Homo sapiens: one gene and its partners. The protein of the gene in region 4 purifies or fractionates together with the protein of the main gene of each other region. This does not show direct contact. Each region holds a gene or a part of one and is shown on either strand. Other genes may lie near its edges. The genes, in order: MELK, TMEM132A, TMEM39A and PCDHGA5.

Region 1 (7,045 bases), on a different chromosome or scaffold from region 4:
CACACACACACACACACACACACACACACACACACACACACACACACACACAAACACAGACATCATCAGGACACCAAACTGGCCTCACATTTTGGCGGAAAGTGTTATTTGAGTTGATGAAATGGAAAATGACGTTAACATAAAAATGGGACTTCTAGCAAATATTCTGGCAAAGTCTTCCGTAATATCTTTATAGACAAGAAGTTAACCCCTCAAACTGGCTATGAGCTCCATTAGTACACTAGAAGCACAATGGCAGGATGTGGTTTCCCAGCAGTTCACATGGCAATGCTCCAGAGTTTAGGTTTGTTAGAATCTTGAAACTTGAGAAGGTCACAATTGGTGGGGGGAAAAAGGCTAATAAAGTTTAGGTAACATTTTTTAAAGTGACATAAACAGGATCACTGTAAATAAAATTCCTTTGGGCTCTAATTTATTAATTCATTACATAAATATGGCCCCTATTATGTACTAGGCATCAGGTCTAGTACTGTGTACTATGTACCAGACAGGTATGGCCCCTACTACAGACCATGCCATGCTGCAATAAACAAGGCAGAGAGTCTCTACTGTCATGACACTTACCACTCTACCCTAGTGAGACCTAGTCTAGAAAACTCAGTTTAGTTCTAGGCACTGTATTCTAAGAGGCAGTCTGATCAAATAGAATGTGTCCAGATGAGGCCAGCAACCAAAACAGTGAAGTATCATAAAGGAAATGGTTTAAATAACTGCTCATGACTAAATTGAAGAGGAAACCAAGGGAAATGAGGAAGTTGTGATAACTGGACAAAGACAGATATCTGGAAGGGCATCATGGATTCACCCTGCCTGCTGAGGACAGGCAGTAATACCATAGGGCAGAACAGGACCAGACACCACAACTGGAGATCCAGATAAGTAAAGGCTCAGCGGAGGCGTCAGCTTGAGTCATAAGTCGGGGTAAATGGGCATGAAAGGTCTAAACCTGGGTATATGACCTTGGGCAAATCACTTCACTCCTTCTGAGTCTCAGGTTTCTTAGCTGTGAAAAAGGGAGTTGGATTAAATGAGCTCTAACTTGCCTTTCAGCTTTGATATCCTAGGATGCTATGATTCAATTTTATAAACGTGAAAAAGAGGAAAAACTTGGTATCATTTGAGAATAAATTGAAATTGACAAATATGCTTTCATTTTAACTAATGCAAATGACATGATAAAAAACAGCTTCACTTCTCCTAGAAATTCCTGAAAGCAATGCTAGTCATTTCTGACCTGCTATATGTTTACTTAACATGGTAAGAAAAATGAAACTTCTTACTGCTTAATTCACTTAGCAAATACCTTTTGAGGGTGTAGTGTAACGATTTGGCGTAGTGAGTATTTCTCTCTTATGCTGGTTCTTATTAACTGGAGTCTTTGGCTCAGGAAACATAAAGTACTCTTCATTCTTTACAGCAGACTTAGGAGTATATACATTTTCTTTGTTCTTTAATTTATTTGCAGGTGTTCTGCATAAGGCTGGAGTTAATGATTTAGATTCCACCCCATTTGATTCTGTCCAGTACTTGGTAAACTGGAAAAAAAAAGTTACTAGATAAAGCACACTGAAGAAGAAAAGTCAATTTCTTTACAACATTCCTTGATCATTTGCAAACTACCTTGTACTATTTTTATTAAAATGAATTATCAAAAGGATATTATTGACATTAGGAAATTTGAAAATATATAGTTTTCTTTAATACATGTAGATCACTTTAGTCTGTTCTATTGACAGTAATTTTCAACATGATACAGGCTGAGTGTATACACATACTCAGATCCTAGGCAATATTGTGAATGGCCACAAATCAATCACTAAGAAATGCTTTCCATACCTAGATAGTCACGGCTTGCCTCTGACATGTACCAAAAAAAAAGTTTAGTCAGCAATTAGGGCAGAAAAAACATGTTAAACTACTCTAACAGAAATATTGGATAAAAAATACTTTTTAATCCTTTTAAATTTATGGTTGAGCTTGCAAGAGAGTAAGTAAAATCCTGAGAGGCCAAACTAAAAACATGAGAATGAATCCAAAGGAGTAACCAAGGCTGAAACTCTCTGCTGCCCTAAGGGCAGCTATCTTCTGCCTCTGATAACCTATAGCATGTGTTTCTACAGCCACAGAAGCCTTGGGCCTCTGCAAGGTGGTGAGTTAGAACCAAAGCTCCCATGTAAAGCCAGGAAGGGCTATAGCTAAAATTAAAGGCTGAGTTAAATATAAATCTGCTCTTCAAAGGGAATAGGCAAGAAAAAGGGTGTCTTGGTCTTGGTTCTGAGGGAGGAGAAAAATGAAGTTTCTTTTAATAATTTGTAAGTAAACACAGGCCAGTCTTCAGATAAATAAAGGTCCAAATTAATACAACCTGCATGGTCCCAGAAACCTCAAGCCTAAATTTAACTTAAAGTAGTCCTATGCTAAGTTGTGCCCCAGGAACCTGGTAGAAGCACGCACAACTCCTACCTGAAAGAAAAGCTTCACTCCAACCCAACTCAAGCCCTTAACCCAAGCCTCAGATAATTCCCATAGAGTTCAAAGAAAAATAAACCTACATAAAAAATTCCAAAAGACACAAGCACTATGAGCATAAAGATTTCAGATATTAAAATTATCAAATACAGAACATAAATAAGTATGTTTGCATGTTTAAAATAGTGAAACAAAAACATGAGTAAAGAACAAAAGACTACCAAAACTGTTCAAATAGATTTGAAAAAGAATAAAAACTTCTAGAAATAAAAACATGATAAAAATGAAAAGTGCAATGCACATGTCAAATAACAGAATAAAAGAAATAGAGATATTTTAATAGAAATATAAATCCGAAATAACTCTGAATGTAGCCAAGACAGAAAAAGACATACGATACGTGAAAGATGGTTGAAGGAAACAGAAAATGAAATAAAATGTCTAACATAAGGCTATTCTAAGTTCCAGATATACATAGTATGGACAATGCAAAAGCAGCAATTCCCTCTACTTCTTTTCCCAAAGGAAAAGAAATCAATACATCAAAAACATACCTGCACTTGTATATTTATCTCAGTACTTATTCACAATAGCAAAGATACAAAATCAACCCAAGTGTCCATCAACAGATGACTGCATAAAGGAAATGTGAGATAGATAGACAGACAGACACACAGATAGAATACTATTCAACCATAAAAAAGAATGAAATCCTATCTTTTGCAACAAGGTGGATGGAAGTGGAGGTTACCTTAAGTGAAACAAGCCAGACACAGAATGACAAATATTGCATGTTCTCACTCATAAGTGGGTGCTAAAAAAGGGTGTACACGTGGATGTAGAGAGTGGAATGATAGAAAATGTAGACTTGGAAGGGTGAGGAGATGGAAGGGGGTTGGTGATGAGAAATTACTTAAGGGGTGCGATGTACATTATTCAGCTGACACCTTAAAACCTCTCACTTGACCACTATGCATCTAAGAAAATTGTACTTGTACTCTATAAATTTATATAAATATTGTTTTAAAGAAAAGCAGGCTGGGTGCGCTGGCTCACACCTGTAATCCCAGCACTTTGGGAGGCCAAGTCATGTGATCACCTGAGGTCAGGAGTACAAGACCAGCCTGGCCAACATGGTGAAACTCTGTCTCTACTAATAATACAAAAATTAGCTGGGCATGGGGACAGGCACCTGTAATCCCAGCTACTCGGGAGGCTGAGGTAGGAAAATCGCTTGAACCTGGGAAGCAGAGGTTGCAGTAAGCTGAGATCGTGCCATTGCACTCCAGCCTGGGCAAGAAGAGAGAAACTCTGTCTCAAAAAGAAAAAAAAAAAGAAACAAGGAAAAGGAGAAAAAGAAAAAGCAGTATATTATTCAAGAAATTTTCAAAAATTGATTAAAAATACAAATCCCCATACATAGAAAGCATGATGAATCATGAACTGGATACATAAAAGAAATCCACATCTCTATTTACCAGATTATACAACTCCAGAGGACACTATCCACAGAGACACCACACAGATGGTGTGTTCCCTGGAGGTGTGCAACGCAGTAGCCCTAACAGTGAAACTGCAGAACACCAAAAGCAAAGAGAAGGTCCTAAAAGGAGCCAGAGAGAAAAGACAGACTAAAAAGGCACTAGACTGAGGTTGGTTTTTCAATAGCAACAATAGAAGCAAGAAGAAAGTGGAATAATATCTTCAATAACATCCTGTGAATCCATAAATATTTCAAAATAAAAAGTTAAAAACATTCAAGAGCTAATACACTGGACACATCAATAGCATGGAATCCAGGAGGGGTAATCAGAGATTAAGTGTTCTAAGGCCTTCATATTGTTTAGAAGGAAATTAAACATACAGATTCACAGCAGGGTGCAGGGGCTCACGCCTGTAATTCTAGCACTTTGGGAGGCCGAGGCAGGTGGATCACCTGAGGTCAGGAGTTCGAGACCAGCCTGGCCAACATGGTGAAACCCTGTCTCTACTAAAAATACAAAAATTAGCCAGACATGGTGGCGGGTGCCTGTAAACCCGGCTACTTGGGAGGCTGAGGCAGGAGAATCACTTGAACCCAGGAGGAAGAGGTTGCAGTGAGCCTGAGATCACGCCATTGCACTCAAGCCTGGGCAACAGAGCAAGATTCCATCTTAAAAAAAAAAAAAAAAAGATACAGATTCACTTTATATTTCGTTAAATTAAATGTTAAAAATTTAGAGTAAATATTAAAAGAATAGAAATCAAATAGAAACCAATAAAATGTGGGGGGAAATTAACATAAAAAATCAAGAAATAAGGGGGAAATACAGAAAAAGACACATAGGAAACATAAAAAAAGAAAGATATATAATAACTAAATCCATAATAAAAATAAGTTGGGTAAGCGCTCAATTCAAAAGACAAGATTTTCAGTTTGCATACCAAATCTAGCTATGTTTTTTTCTTTGTTTGTTTTGTTTTTTTTTTTTTTTTTTTTGAGACGGAGTCTCGCTCTGTCACCTAGGCTGGAGTGCAGTGGTGCAATCTCGGCTCACTGCAAGCTCCGCCTCCCGGGTTCATGCCATTCTCCTGCCTCAGCCTCCCAAGTAACTGGGACTAGAGGTGCCCGCCACCATGCCCAGCTAATTTTTTGTATTTTTTAGTAGAGATGGAGTTTCATTGTGTTAGCCAGGATGGTCTCAATCTCCTGACCTCATGATCCACCCACCTTGGCCTCCCAAAGTGCTGGGATTACAGGCGTGAGCCACCGCGCCCGGCCTAGCTATGTTATTTTTAAAGAGACATACCTAAATATAAGGTATGAAAGGTTTCATTGTTTTATTTGTTTCATTGTTTTATTTATTAAGGAAATCTTACTTTCTTTAATTTTATAATAGTTCTTTTATCAGGTTGACCAGTTTCCTCCCATCTTCTTATTCTTTAGGAATGATTTAGTTATTCTTGCCCCTTTGTATTTCCACATACATTTTAGAATCATTTTGACTTATTTTACATCCACTGAAAAGTTGAGATTACATTAAATTTAAAATTCATTTTGGGAAAAACTGAAATCTATACCTTCAAATCTCCCTATCCATAAACAAAGTATACCTCTTTTGTTTCAGAACTCTGTGTATTAGCCAAAGATCGCAGCATTTATTCATAGAAAACAGCTAAGTAGAAACAGTGAGTTTGAGGTGTTTGAATTTGCCCTACCTATCCCCATTCTTCTCTCTCCAGCTCTATGATAGTCTTAGAAACCCACAGCCCACAATCACGATGAAGACCAGCAACCTAGGAGCCGCTGGAGGGGGCAGAACAGGTTGGAGCTCCTTCAAAGCTTCATGCTCAGAAAACTGTCATTATTTAGCCTGGCCAGTAGTTCCCTAGAAGACCCTACTATGAAAGCTGTCTTTTTTTATTCTTTGTTTGTTTTTTATTTGAGACGGAGTTTTGCTCTTGTTGCCCAGGCTGGAGTGTAATGGCGTGAACTCAGCTCACTGCAAACTCCACCTCCCGGGTTCAAGCAATTCTCCTGCCTCAGCCTTCCGAGTAGCTGGGATTACAGGCATGTGCCACCACAGGCAGCTAATTTTGTATTTTTAGTAGAGACGGGGTTTCTCCATGTTGGTCAGGTAGGTCTTGAACTCCCGACCTCAGGTGATCCACCCGCCTCAGCCCCCCAAAGTGCTGGGATTACAGGCGTGAGCCACTGCACCCAGCCTGAAAGCTGTCTTTATTTGACCTTACTCAGAGCCTGCCCAGTATGAACAGCCTTTTCCCCAGCAGCATCTGTTAAAAAGATTTAGAGGTGCCAGGCGCAGTGGCTCACGCCTGTAATCCCAGCACTTTGGGAGGCCAACGCGGGTGGATCTCTTGAGTCCAGGAGTTTGAGACCAGCCTGGGCAAAATATTGAGACCCTGTCTCTACAAAATAATTTTGTAAAAATTAGCTGGGCATGGTGGTGCATGCCTATAGTCCCCGATACTCGGGAGGCTGAGGCAAGAAAATTGCTTAAGCCCAGGAGGTCGAGGCTGCAGTGAGCCATGATCACACCACTGGACTCCAGCCTGGTTGACGGAATGAGATCCTATCTCAAAAACAAAAAAAAATTTACAGGCAATTGTTGCACATTGTGGCTGCCGAAGCAGTAAGTAATAGCTGGTGACCACAATAAACTAACAAAAATGCTGAAAAAAAAGTTAGAGAATAAGATGTCCACAGTGAATTGGAAAAGCTCCAAAATATACCAGGGTATCTACAAGCCCAATGTACATGTATAGGATGTGCTCATACCCAGGGCTGTGCATTTGCTCAGGAAAGACTTTAGAAGGGGCTGGGCATGGTGGCTCACGCCTGTAATCCCAGCACTTTGGGAGGCTGAGGCAGGTGGATCACTTGAGGTCAGCAGTTCGAGACCAGCCTGACCAACATGGTGAAACCTCGTCTCTACTAAAAATACAAAATTAGCCAGGTGTGGTGGCGCATGCCTGTAATCCCAGCTCCATGGGAGGCTGAGGCAGGAGAATTGCTTGAACCCAGGAGGCGAAAATCGCAGTGAACTGAGATCGT
Region 2 (3,245 bases), on a different chromosome or scaffold from region 4:
CCGCTCAGCGCTGACGGCCAGTCCCGGCCTCCCCGCCCTGCAGGCCTGCGGAACCCGCTGCAGAGGCGTCGGATGAGGCCGAGCGGCGCGCCCGTGGCTGCCACCTGCAGTACCAGCGGGCCGGTGTGCGCTTCCTCGCCCCCTTCGCGGCCCACCCGCTGGACGGCGGCCGCCGCCTCACGCACCTGCTTGGCCCCGACTGGCTGCTAGACGTGTCCCACCTCGTGGCGCCACACGCCCGCGTGCTGGACTCGCGTGTAGCCTCTCTGGAGGGTGGCCGTGTCGTGGTGGGCCGGGAGCCCGGTGTCACCTCCATTGAGGTAAGCAGCTGGGGACCAGGAGAGTAGACCCCCTGAGAAGGGTGGAGGGGCCCCCAAAATGTTCGTGGGTGGGAGTGAAGAGTGTGCCAGGAGCCCAGAGTGTGTGGGGGAGTTGTGCGGTCTAGGTCTGAGTGCAGTGGGATTGGGGATAGGCTCAGAATGGGGTGGCCGCATAAGGGGGGAAGCCCTCTAGCTATGAAGGGCTGAGGTGTGGGTAGTGTGGGGACCGGGTCTTGAGGGAAAAGGGAACTGCCCCCTAGGTGTGGGATTGGGGTCCAGGTATGCACCGGGGTGCAAAGAGTAGAGGGATAGTAGCCCATGAGCCTGCTGGGAGTACCCGGTTCCCTCTGGGTGGGGGCTGTCCGTGGCGAAGACCTCCCCCACCTCCGGAGGGCAGCCCGTGAGGGTGCTGGGAGCACCCGGTTCCCTCTGGGTGGGGGCTGTCTGTATGGAAGGCCCCCCACCTCCAGCTCCTTTCCACCCTCAGGTGCGTTCCCCACTGTCTGACTCCATCCTGGGGGAGCAGGCGCTGGCTGTGACGGACGACAAGGTCTCAGTGCTGGAGCTGAGGGTGCAGCCAGTGATGGGCATCTCGCTGACCTTGAGCCGGGGCACTGCCCACCCCGGGGAGGTCACAGCTACGTGCTGGGCACAGTCAGCCCTTCCCGCCCCAAAGCAGGTGACAGTTGGGGGGTCAGGGGGATGAGGTCAACATCTCCAGATGGGGGCTCATGGTAGAGGGGAATGGGAGGAAGGGACCCTGGTACCTCGACCCCTTAGGGTTTTCAGAGTGAGGACTGACTCTGTGAGGTAGTGAGCTCTCTGCAGCTGGAGGTGATCAAGCAGTGGCTGGAGTATGGCAGTGGGAGGTTGGTTAGATGGCTCTAACTGAGGACCCTCCCAATAACTCAGACCCTAGGGCTGAGTGGCAGACAGGTGATTGACACGCGTCCCCTCTCTCCCTGTGTTTTGTCTATCTGCCTGTGTCTCTGTTTTCTCTCTGGTCTCTCCTCCATGTGGCCTATCTCTGTGGGAGTGGTTTCTCTGTGCATGCGTGCGTGCCCTCGCATGTCTCTGCCTGTGTCTGTGTGCCCCACAGGAGGTGGCCCTCTCCCTATGGCTGTCCTTCTCTGATCACACTGTGGCCCCAGCTGAGCTCTACGACCGCCGTGACCTGGGACTGTCCGTCTCAGCCGAGGAGCCTGGTGCCATCCTGCCAGCTGAGGAGCAGGGTGCCCAGCTCGGGGTGGTGGTGAGTGGGGCAGGCGCCGAGGGGCTGCCGCTGCATGTGGCTCTGCACCCGCCCGAGCCCTGCCGCCGGGGCCGCCACCGTGTGCCTCTGGCCTCTGGCACCGCCTGGCTGGGGCTGCCCCCTGCCTCCACTCCAGCCCCTGCTCTCCCATCCAGCCCTGCTTGGAGCCCACCAGCCACAGAAGCCACCATGGGTGGTAAACGGCAGGTGGCAGGCAGTGTCGGGGGCAACACAGGTGTGAGGGGCAAGTTTGAGCGGGCAGAGGAGGAGGCCAGGAAGGAGGAGACCGAAGCCAGGGAGGAGGAGGAGGAAGAGGAGGAGGAGATGGTCCCTGCCCCTCAGCATGTCACTGAGCTAGAGCTGGGCATGTACGCCCTGCTGGGAGTCTTCTGCGTGGCCATCTTCATCTTCTTGGTCAATGGTGTGGTCTTCGTCCTGCGCTATCAGCGCAAAGAACCTCCCGACAGTGCCACTGACCCCACCTCCCCCCAGCCCCACAACTGGGTCTGGCTGGGCACTGACCAGGAGGAACTGAGCCGCCAGCTGGACCGGCAGTCCCCTGGCCCGCCCAAGGGGGAGGGGAGCTGCCCCTGTGAGAGTGGGGGAGGAGGGGAGGCCCCTACCCTGGCCCCTGGCCCTCCTGGGGGCACCACCAGCTCCTCAAGCACCCTGGCCCGAAAGGAGGCTGGGGGGCGGCGGAAGCGAGTAGAGTTTGTGACATTTGCGCCAGCCCCTCCAGCCCAGTCACCTGAGGAGCCTGTAGGGGCCCCTGCTGTGCAGTCCATCCTTGTGGCAGGCGAGGAGGACATCCGCTGGGTGTGTGAGGACATGGGGCTGAAGGACCCTGAGGAGCTTCGCAACTACATGGAGAGGATCCGGGGCAGCTCCTGACCCTCCACAGCCACCTGGTCAGCCACCAGCTGGGGCAACGAGGGTGGAGGTCCCACTGAGCCTCTCGCCTGCCCCCGCCACTCGTCTGGTGCTTGTTGATCCAAGTCCCCTGCCTGGTCCCCCACAAGGACTCCCATCCAGGCCCCCTCTGCCCTGCCCCTTGTCATGGACCATGGTCGTGAGGAAGGGCTCATGCCCCTTATTTATGGGAACCATTTCATTCTAACAGAATAAACCGAGAAGGAAACCAGAGCTGGGACTGCTGCCGTCTGTCCGGTAGAGTGAAGCAAGGGGGCTGGAATAGGGCCTGTTCAGCCCCTGTCCCTGCTGAAACGGCTGTGGGAGGCTGGGCCCTGGGACGCCCTCTCATAGCGTCCAGCGATCCAGACAAATAGGAGAGCCGTGACGGCCTGAATGCCAGCCAGCAGGAAGAAGTAGAGGTCCATCCGGCAATTGTTGATGTTCCCTGGGGAAAGGAGGGGTTAGATTTGGGTCAGGACAGGGATCCTCTGTCTTGCGCCCTGTGCCTGCCGTGTCCTAGCCCTGGGGCTGGCAACTGAGGCCATGTGGGCAGTGGTGGGATCTGAAGACACTGGACAGATACCCACTAATGTTTGACTTCCTGAAGATCTCCAGGGGTGTCTACAATTCCTCTTCAGCTATTCAGAAGGGGGCGTGAAATATAAACACCATGAGAAAGGTAACCCTTCAGCCAGAGATGGCAGAGTTCCAGAAGCAGAAAGGAGCCTTGGAGGTCCACTAAGTTCAACACTTGGGGAAAG
Region 3 (4,212 bases), on a different chromosome or scaffold from region 4:
AGTACCTATGTAATATCCTTAATTTTTGCCTCTTGACTTACAAAGCCTAAAATATTTCCTGTTTGGTCCTTTATCCACCTCTGTCTTAGATGAATATACTTTTGTGTTTATCCTAAATAAAATATATACCTAAAATATAATCTAAGAAAAATGTTTATAAGTAGTTTTCTTTTGGGCATAATCTCTTTTCGTGTCTCAGGGGCATTGAAATAAAAATTATTTCATTATTTCTTGAGCAAAAAGGAAAAGGTTTCAATCTTTATAGCAAGAAATAGCCTGATTGATATTAAATAAACAGATCTATTTATTATTATATATGGGAACCTGTAAATGTTAAATTATTTTAGAAAAATCAATGCAAGAATAACTGTAGCCATTACTTTTCTATGAAATAATGTTTTACTTTTTTAACTTCCTTACAGTTCTTATTTCATCGACCATTAAGGCTGTTAAATCTGCTCATCCTTATTGAGGGCAGTGTCGTCTTCTATCAGCTCTATTCCTTGCTGCGGTCGGAGAAGTGGAACCACACACTTTCCATGGCTCTCATCCTCTTCTGCAACTACTATGTTTTATTTAAACTTCTCCGGGACAGAATAGTATTAGGCAGGGCATACTCCTACCCACTCAACAGTTATGAACTCAAGGCAAACTAAGCTGCCTCTCAACAATGAGGGAGAACTCAGATAAAAATATTTTCATACGTTCTATTTTTTTCTTGTGATTTTTATAAATATTTAAGATATTTTATATTTTGTATACTATTATGTTTTGAAAGTCGGGAAGAGTAAGGGATATTAAATGTATCCGTAAACAAGGTGATGTGATCTTTCATGTGTTAGTATATTCGAATAATATACATATGAGAGGTATGCCTGTCCAGTAAAGAGATTGATTTGTTTGTATGGCTCTGGAATAACTCATTCGTTTATGAACACATCTCATGTATTACTTGACACAGTACCTTTGGTATGTCTGCTTTTCTTTCAATCCTCATTATCTTTAGCCCTCAGCTGGCCAGTACTTATTGCTAAAGAAAGGGAGATCAATGGAGTTGCCTACCAGCACCCATTCTCTTTTAGTTCAGCTGGCTAATAGTATTGGAATACATTGGGAAAAGAGTGGGTTAAAGTCCTAGGTGGGGTTCTCTTTGTTGCCTACCAGGAGAAAGCAGTAGGCTTCCTTTCTAAGATACGGACTCAGCTGGTCTATTTTACCCTGTGACATTTAAATATACTTTTGAATAAGCTACTATCCTGAGGCTGAGGGTTTTGCTGCCACTTTTCCTGTGTTTCCACTTCTGCTTCCAAAGATTTTCCTCTTAGTTGTTTGAAATAATACTTTGCCAGACAGGAAGTCTTTAGACTGCCCACATTCATGAAGAAGATGATGTGTGGCTGGATCAGTAGGAGAAGCTGAGTGCAAATGCCATGTGGGCTAGAGTATGGGAAGGTTGAAAATTCCAAGTAACTGGGAGAGTGGGCAAGTCCTCAGCTGAACAATCTTGGATGTAGTCTAGCAGCAACCCACCTACAATGGCGTTATGTTTGGAGTTATGAGGGGAAGTGAAAGATAAGAATTACCTACAGCTTTGTACTCAGATAATTTATATCCAAAATTTGTGTTTTAAATTTCATACTCCAGAACTTTCATGTTTATGAGTATTAGCCTTTTAAGTTATGGGAGGTGATATACTTAGTCCATTGATGTTGTCACTTGTCATCTAAACTTATGAGACCTTGTCTTAGAGAATCTAAAATATATTGTCATATGTTTTCTGTGCTGAGTTTGGTTTGTTACACTGTGAAGCTTTTGGTGAAACAAAATAAGACTTATGAAGTAAAAAGACCAATCATGTCGTTGACAAGCTGGCTCTGAAAATAATTCTTGCAGAAGAGTTCCTGAAAGGCTTCACCAAGGGGAAGTATTGTGAGGAGTGTTTGTAAAACCAAGGTACCCAATATCAGTTTTATGTTTAAATCAATAATTGTTTCTTTAAATATTTTGATGTGTATACTTTTTTTTTAAGTTAACATTATTTGGCATTCAGTCTGAGTCTGTTCAACCATTCAACAAATATATATTAACCAGTAGGCACTATATTAGGCCCTGGGGATATAGCAGTGAATGAGAAATGCAAAGGTCCTACTTGCACAGAGCTTACAATATGCGTGGGGGTGGGGGAGTTAGGTGGTGCAGAAAATACAGCAAATAAATTTATGTGTAATATAACATTCCCTGGTAGTAGTGATAAGTGTAGCAAAGGGAAATCAGGACAAGGAAATAGTGGTAAGAATAGCACTGCTAGAAGGCATCTTTGAGGAGATGATTTTTAAGCAAAGAAAAAGCAAGACTGAATCATATAAATAGCTTTGGGGAGAATTCCATGTTACAGTAGCAGAAAGGGCAGTGCCCTGAGGTGGGGACAAGTTGGTATATTGGAAGAATAGCAAGAAAATATATTAGGTTAGTTGCTTTTTAAAGTAGTTCAGCCTAAATATAGTGGTTCTTGAGGTAGGGGTGGGAAGGGTAGGGAATCTGCCATCTTTCTATTCTTTCTGTAGGATCTTGAAAATATGCTTCTCTTGGCAGCAACATTTTCATGAGATTACTCAGCAGTTGAGAGCAAAATGGGTGGCATGGGCACAGAGATATCTCATCAAAATTGCCCCAACTTGGCTCCAGCTTGGGAAAGTAACCCAGAAAACCCTGATTAGAGATAACAGACCAGTCTTATGAACTAATATGATGCCCCTTCTGGCTTGATCTGTCTTGGTCCTATCCTAAGGGAATAGCACAGAACCAGATGCTGGCTTGGCTAAATAAGTAAGTGGATATAAGAAATAAATAAAAATTAATTTTGGCTAATGGAATTGCAAAGTTCCTCCTACCCTCACCTCCAGATATGGCAGCATACGGGGCATAAGACCGTTTAGTTCAACGTGTTCTACACATTCCAGCTGTTTTTTGTTTGTTTGTTTTGTTGTTTTGTTTTTGTAGGGGCCACGTTCATGGAAGAGAGAAAAATTACTAGTTACCCGGATATCCTATTATAGTTCATGTAACAGAAGGGACACTATATTTGCTCACTGATAGTAGAAAAATGTGTAATCATTAAAGAATGACCTTTTTTGTAATTCTTTGTTGGCAAGTTAAAATTGTTTGTGGAAAGCATGGTATAGCAAAAGTTCAGTTGGGTGAACTGGGATACTGGAAAAGGAAAGAAGATACTTGACTAGTCTGGGTGGTCTAAGGTGGGTAAATAAAGGAGTAGAGGAGGGTAGTTCACAGGAATGAGCATGACAGAAGTTTTCCTCAATATCCTGTTTACTCTGATTCCATGTTTATATTCCTAATCCTCCTTTCCTTCCTGTCCCTATCAGTCACCACCACTGCCACCTGTTGTGCCGTTTCTCTCTCTTTTTTTTAATTAATTTTTTTATTTCTATTAAGCTAGCCAGGCATCTCATTTCTATGTACTGGGCAATTATATGCCAAACACTGCTGGGTGCCGGAGATAGTGATGTTCGAGTTCATTAACTAATAGAAGACAGACAAGTAAACCAGTTGTCACACTAGGGTGTTCATTAACAGAAATATGTATGAGATACGTAATAGATATCAGATCTATTAACAATCTTGAGTGTGAAGCCCAATAAAGTGCTCTTTTCATAAGTACTTCAAATAAGCAGACAGATGTCTTGGAACTTTTGTAGACAGAAGACAGCTAATGAAAGATTATAAGCTAAGAATAACTTATGATCCACTGGTTTCTAGTTCCCAAAGTAATCTCTAGATCAGCAGCATCAGCATCACTTAACTGATCAGCTGACCCTTCTGGAATCATAGGATAGACTAAATAGTGAAGGTCTATCCCTTCCCAAGAACACCTGTAACGGCCAGAAGAGGGGGCTGTCTCCTCAAATGCACTGACAACAATACAAGAACATACAGATTATGAAGAATCAGGGAATCATGACACCTACAAAAGAAACTAATAAAGCTCCAATAATAGACCCCAAAGAAATGGAGATTTATGAAATAACTGACAAAGAATTCAGAATAATACCCATAAAGAAGTTCAGTGAACTATTAATATATACAGATAAAAAATTTAATGAAATTTGAAAACAGTACACTAAAAAGAAAGTTGACAAATAGAAACAATAAGAATGGGATAGAAATTCAAGAGACTGAAAAATTCAACAGAAA
Region 4 (7,045 bases):
ATCTTTCTAAACTTTTCTTTGTGTAATCAAAGAACATGCATGAGCTTCATTTTTATTTTTATTTATTTATTTATTTATTTATTTATTTATTTATTTATTGATACGTAGCCTTGCTCTGTCACCCAGGCTGGACTGCAGTGGCGCAATCTCGGCTCACTGCAAGCTCCGCCTCCCAGGTTCACGCCATGCTCCTGCCTCAGCCTCCAGAATAGCTGGGACTACAGGCGCCCACTACCACGCCCGGCTAATTATTTTGTATTTTTAGTAGAGACGGGGTTTCACCGTGTTAGCCAGGATGGTCTCGATCTCCTGACCTCGTGATCCGCCCGCCTCGGCCTCCCAAAGTGCTGGGATTACAGGCGTGAGCCACCGCGCCTGGCCGAGCTTCATTTTAAAAAAATCTCATTCACCTAAATAAGTTGTTCACAAACTTGTCACACTTTCATGTGACACTTTATTCACATATTAAGAACTGTTATTCCCAGTCATACGGTACATTTCCTACTAGTTTTTTAAAAATAGCAACTGAGGCCATACTGTCCAACAGAATTATAGCTTTTTTCTTCTTTGCAGTGTATCATGAGAATTTCCCCATGTCTTTCAAAATTCTTCCCAAGTCATTTGCAGAGTAACTCCTCTTATGAATATACATATTATTTTACAGAATAAGTCCTCATATGAATATACATATTATTTTTCTAATGCTAATGGGCTTTTGCTACATTAGAAAACATACACATTCATTTACAATTTTTTTTTTTTGAGACAGTCTCGCTCTGTCTCCAGGCTGGGGTGCAGTGGCGCCATCTCGGCTCACTGCAAGCTCCACCTCCTGGGTTCAAGCAATTCTCCTGCCTCAGCCTCCTGAGTAGCTGGGACTACAGGCACGCGCCACCACGCCCAGCTAATTTTTGTATTTTTAGTAGAGACGGGGTTTCACCATGTTGACCAGGATGGTCTCAATCTCTTGACCTCGTGATCCGCCTGCCTCAGCCTCCCTAAGTGCTGGGATTACAGGTGGGAGCCACCATCCCCAGCCTCATTTACATTTTAACACAATTAAATTCAGGGTGTTGTCAGGGTGACTTCCTAGATTTCTCAGTTTTTTGAGCATGATGTAGGGAGTATTTTATTATAGTCCAGTCTATGGGATATTCCCTTATACACACACACACACACACACACACACACACACACACACACACACCCCAAACTCAATAGGGCAAGAACCATATTCATCATCTCTTAAATCCTAGGTCCTGTCACAGGCCACTGCTTGGAAAATAGTTGACTAAATGTAGTCCATTTCTTCCATTTTTACTTTTCACTATTCCCCAAATCCTGGAAGAGTCCCTCATATCTGCTGCTGGGGCTCCAAGGCCTCCAAGCTGAAGCCCAGTACGTTGTTGTGCATAAGATCATAGGCCCTGGAATCATATTAGGCTGGCTTTCAGGTTGCAACTCTACCAGTTCCAGCTGTGTGACTCTGGTATAGTCTCTCAACCTCTCTGAGCCCTGTTTTCATCTGTTGGAAAATATAGATAATCACAACACTTATCTGCAGGGTGATTCCGAGGATAAAAAAGACAAATATATTACCCAGTCAGCTTAGAATAGGAAGCTCTCAGTAAATGGTTAAAAAAGAGGTCTCTCTCCCTCTGCTCATCTCTTACCCAGCTTCACATAATTGGCAGCCCACCCACCTGTTTGGCCCTCAACCTTCAACCATTTCCCAGGACGCCTCCTTACACTCCTGATCATCATGGTTCCAACCCCACTGTTCCACTCAGCTTTGTTCCCTCAACACCACTGCTCCCTGTGACAGGTCATCCTCCTAACCTCTGGCATCTGGTCCCGTTGTCTCCCTGACAACCCGCATGCTCTCCTCCCTGCAACCCCCGCCGCTTGCCTGCTCTCCCTACTTTATTCCCATTAGCCCCCTTCACCTGGGGCTGAGAACACCTGGCCTTGACCCTGCACCCTCAGCCAGGCCCACAGAGCTCAGTCGGGCCGGAAGTAAGGACCCCAGATATTCAGTTGAGGAATTTAACATTAATACAATAATATAGAATCCACCAGCAGATTTTCATAAATGTTCTGTGTGTTCTTTTATCCTTTTTTTTAATCCAGGATTTTATCAAGGAGCATAGATTGCATTTGGTTGTCACGTCTTTCCTCTCCTTTAATCTGGAGCCAGCTCCCAGTCTTTTTATTTTTTTAATGACATGGATATTTTTAAAGAGTCCAGGCCAGTTGTACTTTAAAATGTCCCCGAACCTGGATTTGCTGGCTATTCTCTGATGGTTAGATTCAGATTACACACCTTGGTAGGAATACTTCCCGCAGCATCACACTGGGACTCATCTAACGTCGGCCTGTCCCACTATCAGTGATGCCGAGTTTGTTCGTGTGGTAAAAACAGTGTCCCAGATCTCTCCATTATAAAAATATATTTTTATAAAGATATTTTAAAATATTTGTGAAAATATAAGTAATCTGTGGATGATACTTTGAGATAGGCAGCAACCCTTCATGCAATTTTAGTATTCCCTGATGATCCTTGCCTGTATCTGTTTTTACATCAGTGATTACAAAGCGGTGATGTTCTGTCATTCCTTCTACATGTATTTGCTGGTATTCTTCTGAAAATTACCTGGATGATTTCTTCAGATTTAAATTCACTGTCTTTTCCTTGGGGAAGCCTGGACTGGCTGAGCTGCCTAACCCTGACTCTCTGTCTTTTTTTTTTTTTTGACAGGGAGTCTAGCTCTGTTGCCAGGCTGGAGTGCAGTGGCAACCTTCACCTCCTGGGTTCAAGCGATTCTCCTGCCTCAGCCTCCCAAGTAGCTGGGATTACAGGCGTGTGCCACCATGCCCGGTTAATTTTTTTTTTTTAATATCTATTTTAGTTGAGACAGGGTTTCACCATGTTGGTCAGAATGGTCTCGATCTCCTGACCTCGTGGTCTGCCCGCCCCTGCCTCTCTTCATACCCTCTGGTAGCCCCTGACACAGCCCATGGCAAGTATCACAATTGCAATTACTCTATTGTGTAATTATTTAAAATCAGCCTCTCAGTGCCCACCATGAGCACCGTAAAGATGGACAGTTTCTATCATACTCACAGCCACAACCCCAGCACCTGGCTCTGTGTCTGGTACATAGAAATTGCTCAAGAAAGAATTGTTGGAGGGGCGCGGTGGCTCACGCCTGTAATTCCAGCACTTTGGGAAGCGGAGGCAGGTGGATCATGAGGTCAGGAGTTCGAAACCAACCTGGCCAATATGGTGAAACCCCATCTCTACTAAAAATACAAAAATTCGCTGGGCATGGTGGCATGTGTGCACTTGTCGTCCCAGCTGCTCAAGAGGCTGAGGCAGGAGAATCACTTGAACCTGGGAGGCAGAGGTTGCAGTGAGCCGAGATCGCGCCACTGTACTCCAGCCTGGGTGACAGAGCGAGACTCCAGCTCAAAAAAAAAAAAAAAAGAAAAAAGAAAAGAAATAATTATTGAATCAATGGAAACAGAATTACAACTCTTCCCACTTTTGGGAAGGAGAATTGAGATTCCTGCTTTCCCCTTCAACCCTAGCTTTATGTTTGTTGTGATGGTATAGAGGTCACACATGGCAGCCTTGTGTCTGTTCTTAGGCTGAGTTCATCTACTTAGGGACGGGGAATCCCAGATTGGGCAAAACCAAAAGCAGGGACAGACCTTGGAAAAATTGTAAAGCAGTTCTTGGTTGTGCTCACCCACCATGACAAAATATGCACACACACAACGCAACACACACACAGACATTTTCATGCCTTCAAGGCCTACCCTACAGCCTTTCCCATGGTGCCAAACCCTTCTTCTTACCTTACAGTCACTTAACTGTCTCTGCTGGTCTCTTCCCACTCATTTAGGCAACAAATATTTATTGAAAAACTTCTCTGAGCCAGATGGTGCCAAACAGTTACCTAAAGGGCAGACTGTGTGTGTGCCAGGGCTGTTTCCCGCCAACACTCCCCTGCAAATTGAAATAATTTCATCCTTGGAAATTCAAAAAAATCATGAAAATTGTCACTGTGGGAAAATTCCAAGTAGAGCTGAACCTTCTAAGAAGCAGAGAGTTCTTCTTATGGTTTAGTATTTTTTTAAATTATGAATCATTTCATGTTTTTTCAACACTCGGAGTTTCTAAAAGTCTCACTTAGGTCCAAGTGCTAGGCTTTGTGCTAGGTGCTTCAGTAGGAAGCAGGTGGAGTCGCTGCCTCACAGAAGCCAGTGTGGTGGAGGAACAGACAGGCACTACAACAGCTGCAGTGTGACTAGTGCCATGTGGGGCAGCCGCTGGGATGGGAGTACAGTGGAGGCACCTGCCCAGTCTGAGTGGATCTCCTCTGATATATTTTATTCGTGTCATCATGGCAAATGTTGGGGGACTGGCATTCTAGGGAACACCATCTGCCCAGGATTCACAGCAAGAGGGAACTTGAGGGATAGGAAAGTGCACCTTGGAAAAGGTTTGATGATAGAGTGTTTGAGGGCGGGGGGTGGGGGTTCTTGTAAAATAGGAGGGGCAGGTTCTTCTATGGCCGTGGATTTTACTCTGAGGGCTTAGGAAGCCATTGAATTTTAGAAATTTCTTCTCCCTGCTCCAGGGTCTCTTGGGGCCTCCTACATCTCCCCCTAGGTACCTCCTAGGTCCCCACTTTTTCTCTAGCTCTGGAACATTCTCTTCCATTTCCCACCTTCACAGTCCTCTGGAGAAGGTCTGATCTCCCTCACTATGACAGGAAGCCAGGCTCTCTCATGGTGGGTGGGGGAATGCACTATGTTCAATGCATTGGACCAGCCTGGCCAACATGGTGAAACCCCGTCTGTACTAAAAATACAAAAATTAGCCTGGCACAGTGGCAGGTGCCTGTCATCCCAGCTACTTGGGAGACTGAGGCAGGAGAATCGCTTGAACCCAGGAGGTGGATGTTGCAATGAGCCAAGATCGCGCCACTGCACTCCAGCCTGGATGACAGAGTAAGACCCTGTCTAAAACAAAAAGAAAAAAGCATCGGAGGCAGCAAAGAGCTGGTTTGAGGGACTGACTTGTGGGATTCTGGCTTCTGAAGGATTGTAGAAGTGCCTCCTACCTTGCTGAGAGAAACAGGTCTTGGGCATGGGGTAGGGTTAGGGTACTAGGTTTGGGAGCCCTGGGAGAGGACAGGAGGGGCATGAGCTGTGCCGGCCTGGGAGTCTGTGCTCACCATCCTACTCTCTCCCCAGCTCCCAAAATGGCGATGACACCGGCACCTGGCCCAACAACCAGTTTGACACAGAGATGCTGCAAGCCATGATCTTGGCGTCCGCCAGTGGTAAGTGGTGTCAGTGTGTGTATGGAAGAGTGGGAGACCTGGGGTTCTGGGGTGCATCTCACAGCCACCATGCCCACGGACTGGATGTCAAACCTGTGTAGTTTCTCCAGATCTTTCGGCAGGTCTGAAAGGACCCACAATTCCAAACATAAAGCCTGGAATTGTGGCTAAGGAACAGCAGAGGGGTTGGGGGTCCTGGGATGCCTGGAGGAGAGCGAACAAGGAAAAGACTCATGGAGGGAATAGTGGTTACAAGTCTAGCTCTGGAATGGGACAGTGTAGCTCAGGTCCTAGCTCTGCTACTATCCTTGGGACTTGGATCGACTTGCTCAATCTCTCTAAACCTCAGTTTCCTCAGCCTAGAAAGTGGGGACAGGGACCCCAAAGGGTTGTTGTAGAGATTAAATGAGATGATACCACAAAGCATAGAGTTCTGGGCCTGGCGCTTGGAAGCCCTCAAGCAATGAAAGTGGGTGTAGAAATCCCCAGCCGAGAGAACACCTCCTCTTTATGCGAGGCTCCTCTTTTGCTGCCCCTAACTCCAGAGTAGGATTCTGGTTTTCCCATAAGGTTGACTAAGGGCTTCCTTTGTAATAGAGATTCGGCTAGTGGTGGTTGTCCCTGAAGAGTCACTAGGGCCCAGAGCAGGAGAAGAAGAATATCATTTGTCCTTAAGAGCACAGCCTAAGCTGGGCGTGGTGGCTCACGCCTGTAATCCCAGCACTTTGGGAAGCTGAGGCAGGAGGATCATGAGGTCAGGAGTTCGAAACCGGCCTGGCCAACATAGTGAAACCCTGTCTCTACTAAAAATACAAAAATTAGCTGGGCATGGTGGTGCGTGCCTGTAGTCCCAGCTACTTGGGAGGCTGAGGCAGGAGAATCGCTTGAACCTGGGAGGTGGCTGTGGTGAGCAGAAAATCGCACCACTGCACTCCAGCCTGGGCAACAGTCTCGCTCTGTCTCAAAAAAAAAAAAAAAAAAAAAGAGCACAGGCTTTAGAGGCAGGCCAATCTGGATTCAAATCCTGGCACCTGGCACCACCACTTAGCAATGAGTCCTTAGGTAAGTTATTAAACCCCCTCGGTTTCACTTACTATTAATGGGCACAGTATTAACGGATCTCATTGTGGTGTTACCAGGGCCAAATGCAAGTCCCTCAGCACAGGATTGGCAGAGAGTAAGGGCACAATATATTATTATCTTTGCTGACCCAAACCCGTTTTTTACTGGGTAGAAAGCAGAATTAGAATAATGCCTATTAATAAAGACTAGCTTCTGGAGCAGCAAATCCTGGGCTTATAAGGAGGCTGGCAGAGGATCAAGGCATTGCCCTATATCATGAACTGATAGCCCTGCCCTCCAGCATGTCTGGAGGACTGGTGGGTAGAGAACCAGGTGAAATCACAAGAAGCACTGTCATCACACCTGGGCACATACTAAACAAACTTTAGGGGCCTCCTGTCAATGAATCCTCTCAATAGCTCTGCAAGGCAGGTCTGATTTCTCACACTCGACAGATGAGAGAACCGAGAAGGCACTTGCCCCAGGGTCCTCAGTTTTGAGCTGCCAAGCTGAGGTTCTAACCTGGCTCAACTCCTAAGTTTATGCTCTTTCTACTATAGGGACCATGGCTGCCTTTGGATCCAGCCTCGGCTTCTCTATTACCTGAGCAGGATGAGAGGCTGTCCTCT

What was found.
Region 1: the proteins of PCDHGA5 (region 4) and MELK purify together in Homo sapiens (co-immunoprecipitation; 3 studies listed by BioGRID and IntAct, with this or other methods). This does not show direct contact.
Region 2: the proteins of PCDHGA5 (region 4) and TMEM132A purify together in Homo sapiens (affinity purification with mass spectrometry; 2 studies listed by BioGRID and IntAct, with this or other methods). This does not show direct contact.
Region 3: the proteins of PCDHGA5 (region 4) and TMEM39A purify together in Homo sapiens (affinity purification with mass spectrometry; 2 studies listed by BioGRID and IntAct, with this or other methods). This does not show direct contact.

The regions. Positions count from the first base shown.
Region 1 is NC_000009.12:36,659,861-36,666,905, reverse strand, and holds part of MELK (maternal embryonic leucine zipper kinase), read right to left. Parts: intron 1,557-7,045; coding exon 1,325-1,556; intron 1-1,324. UniProt on the Homo sapiens protein: Serine/threonine-protein kinase involved in various processes such as cell cycle regulation, self-renewal of stem cells, apoptosis and splicing regulation. Has a broad substrate specificity; phosphorylates BCL2L14, CDC25B, MAP3K5/ASK1 and ZNF622.
Region 2 is NC_000011.10:60,934,445-60,937,689, forward strand, and holds the end of TMEM132A (transmembrane protein 132A isoform b precursor), read left to right. Parts: intron 1-43; coding exon 44-320; intron 321-807; coding exon 808-999; intron 1,000-1,419; coding exon 1,420-2,463; 3' UTR 2,464-2,715; downstream 2,716-3,245. Other genes in the region: SLC15A3 (solute carrier family 15 member 3), read right to left, coding at 2,775-2,929. UniProt on the Homo sapiens protein: May play a role in embryonic and postnatal development of the brain. Increased resistance to cell death induced by serum starvation in cultured cells. Regulates cAMP-induced GFAP gene expression via STAT3 phosphorylation.
Region 3 is NC_000003.12:119,428,425-119,432,636, reverse strand, and holds the end of TMEM39A (transmembrane protein 39A), read left to right. Parts: intron 1-422; coding exon 423-656; 3' UTR 657-3,688; downstream 3,689-4,212. UniProt on the Homo sapiens protein: Regulates autophagy by controlling the spatial distribution and levels of the intracellular phosphatidylinositol 4-phosphate (PtdIns(4)P) pools.
Region 4 is NC_000005.10:141,500,128-141,507,172, forward strand, and holds part of PCDHGA5 (protocadherin gamma-A5 isoform 1 precursor), read left to right. Parts: intron 1-5,265; coding exon 5,266-5,354; intron 5,355-7,045. Other genes in the region: PCDHGA1 (protocadherin gamma-A1 isoform 1 precursor), read left to right, coding at 5,266-5,354; PCDHGA2 (protocadherin gamma-A2 isoform 1 precursor), read left to right, coding at 5,266-5,354; PCDHGA3 (protocadherin gamma-A3 isoform 1 precursor), read left to right, coding at 5,266-5,354; PCDHGB1 (protocadherin gamma-B1 isoform 1 precursor), read left to right, coding at 5,266-5,354; PCDHGA4 (protocadherin gamma-A4 isoform 1 precursor), read left to right, coding at 5,266-5,354; PCDHGB2 (protocadherin gamma-B2 isoform 1 precursor), read left to right, coding at 5,266-5,354; PCDHGB3 (protocadherin gamma-B3 isoform 1 precursor), read left to right, coding at 5,266-5,354; PCDHGA6 (protocadherin gamma-A6 isoform 1 precursor), read left to right, coding at 5,266-5,354; PCDHGA7 (protocadherin gamma-A7 isoform 1 precursor), read left to right, coding at 5,266-5,354; PCDHGB4 (protocadherin gamma-B4 isoform 1 precursor), read left to right, coding at 5,266-5,354; and 11 more. UniProt on the Homo sapiens protein: Potential calcium-dependent cell-adhesion protein. May be involved in the establishment and maintenance of specific neuronal connections in the brain.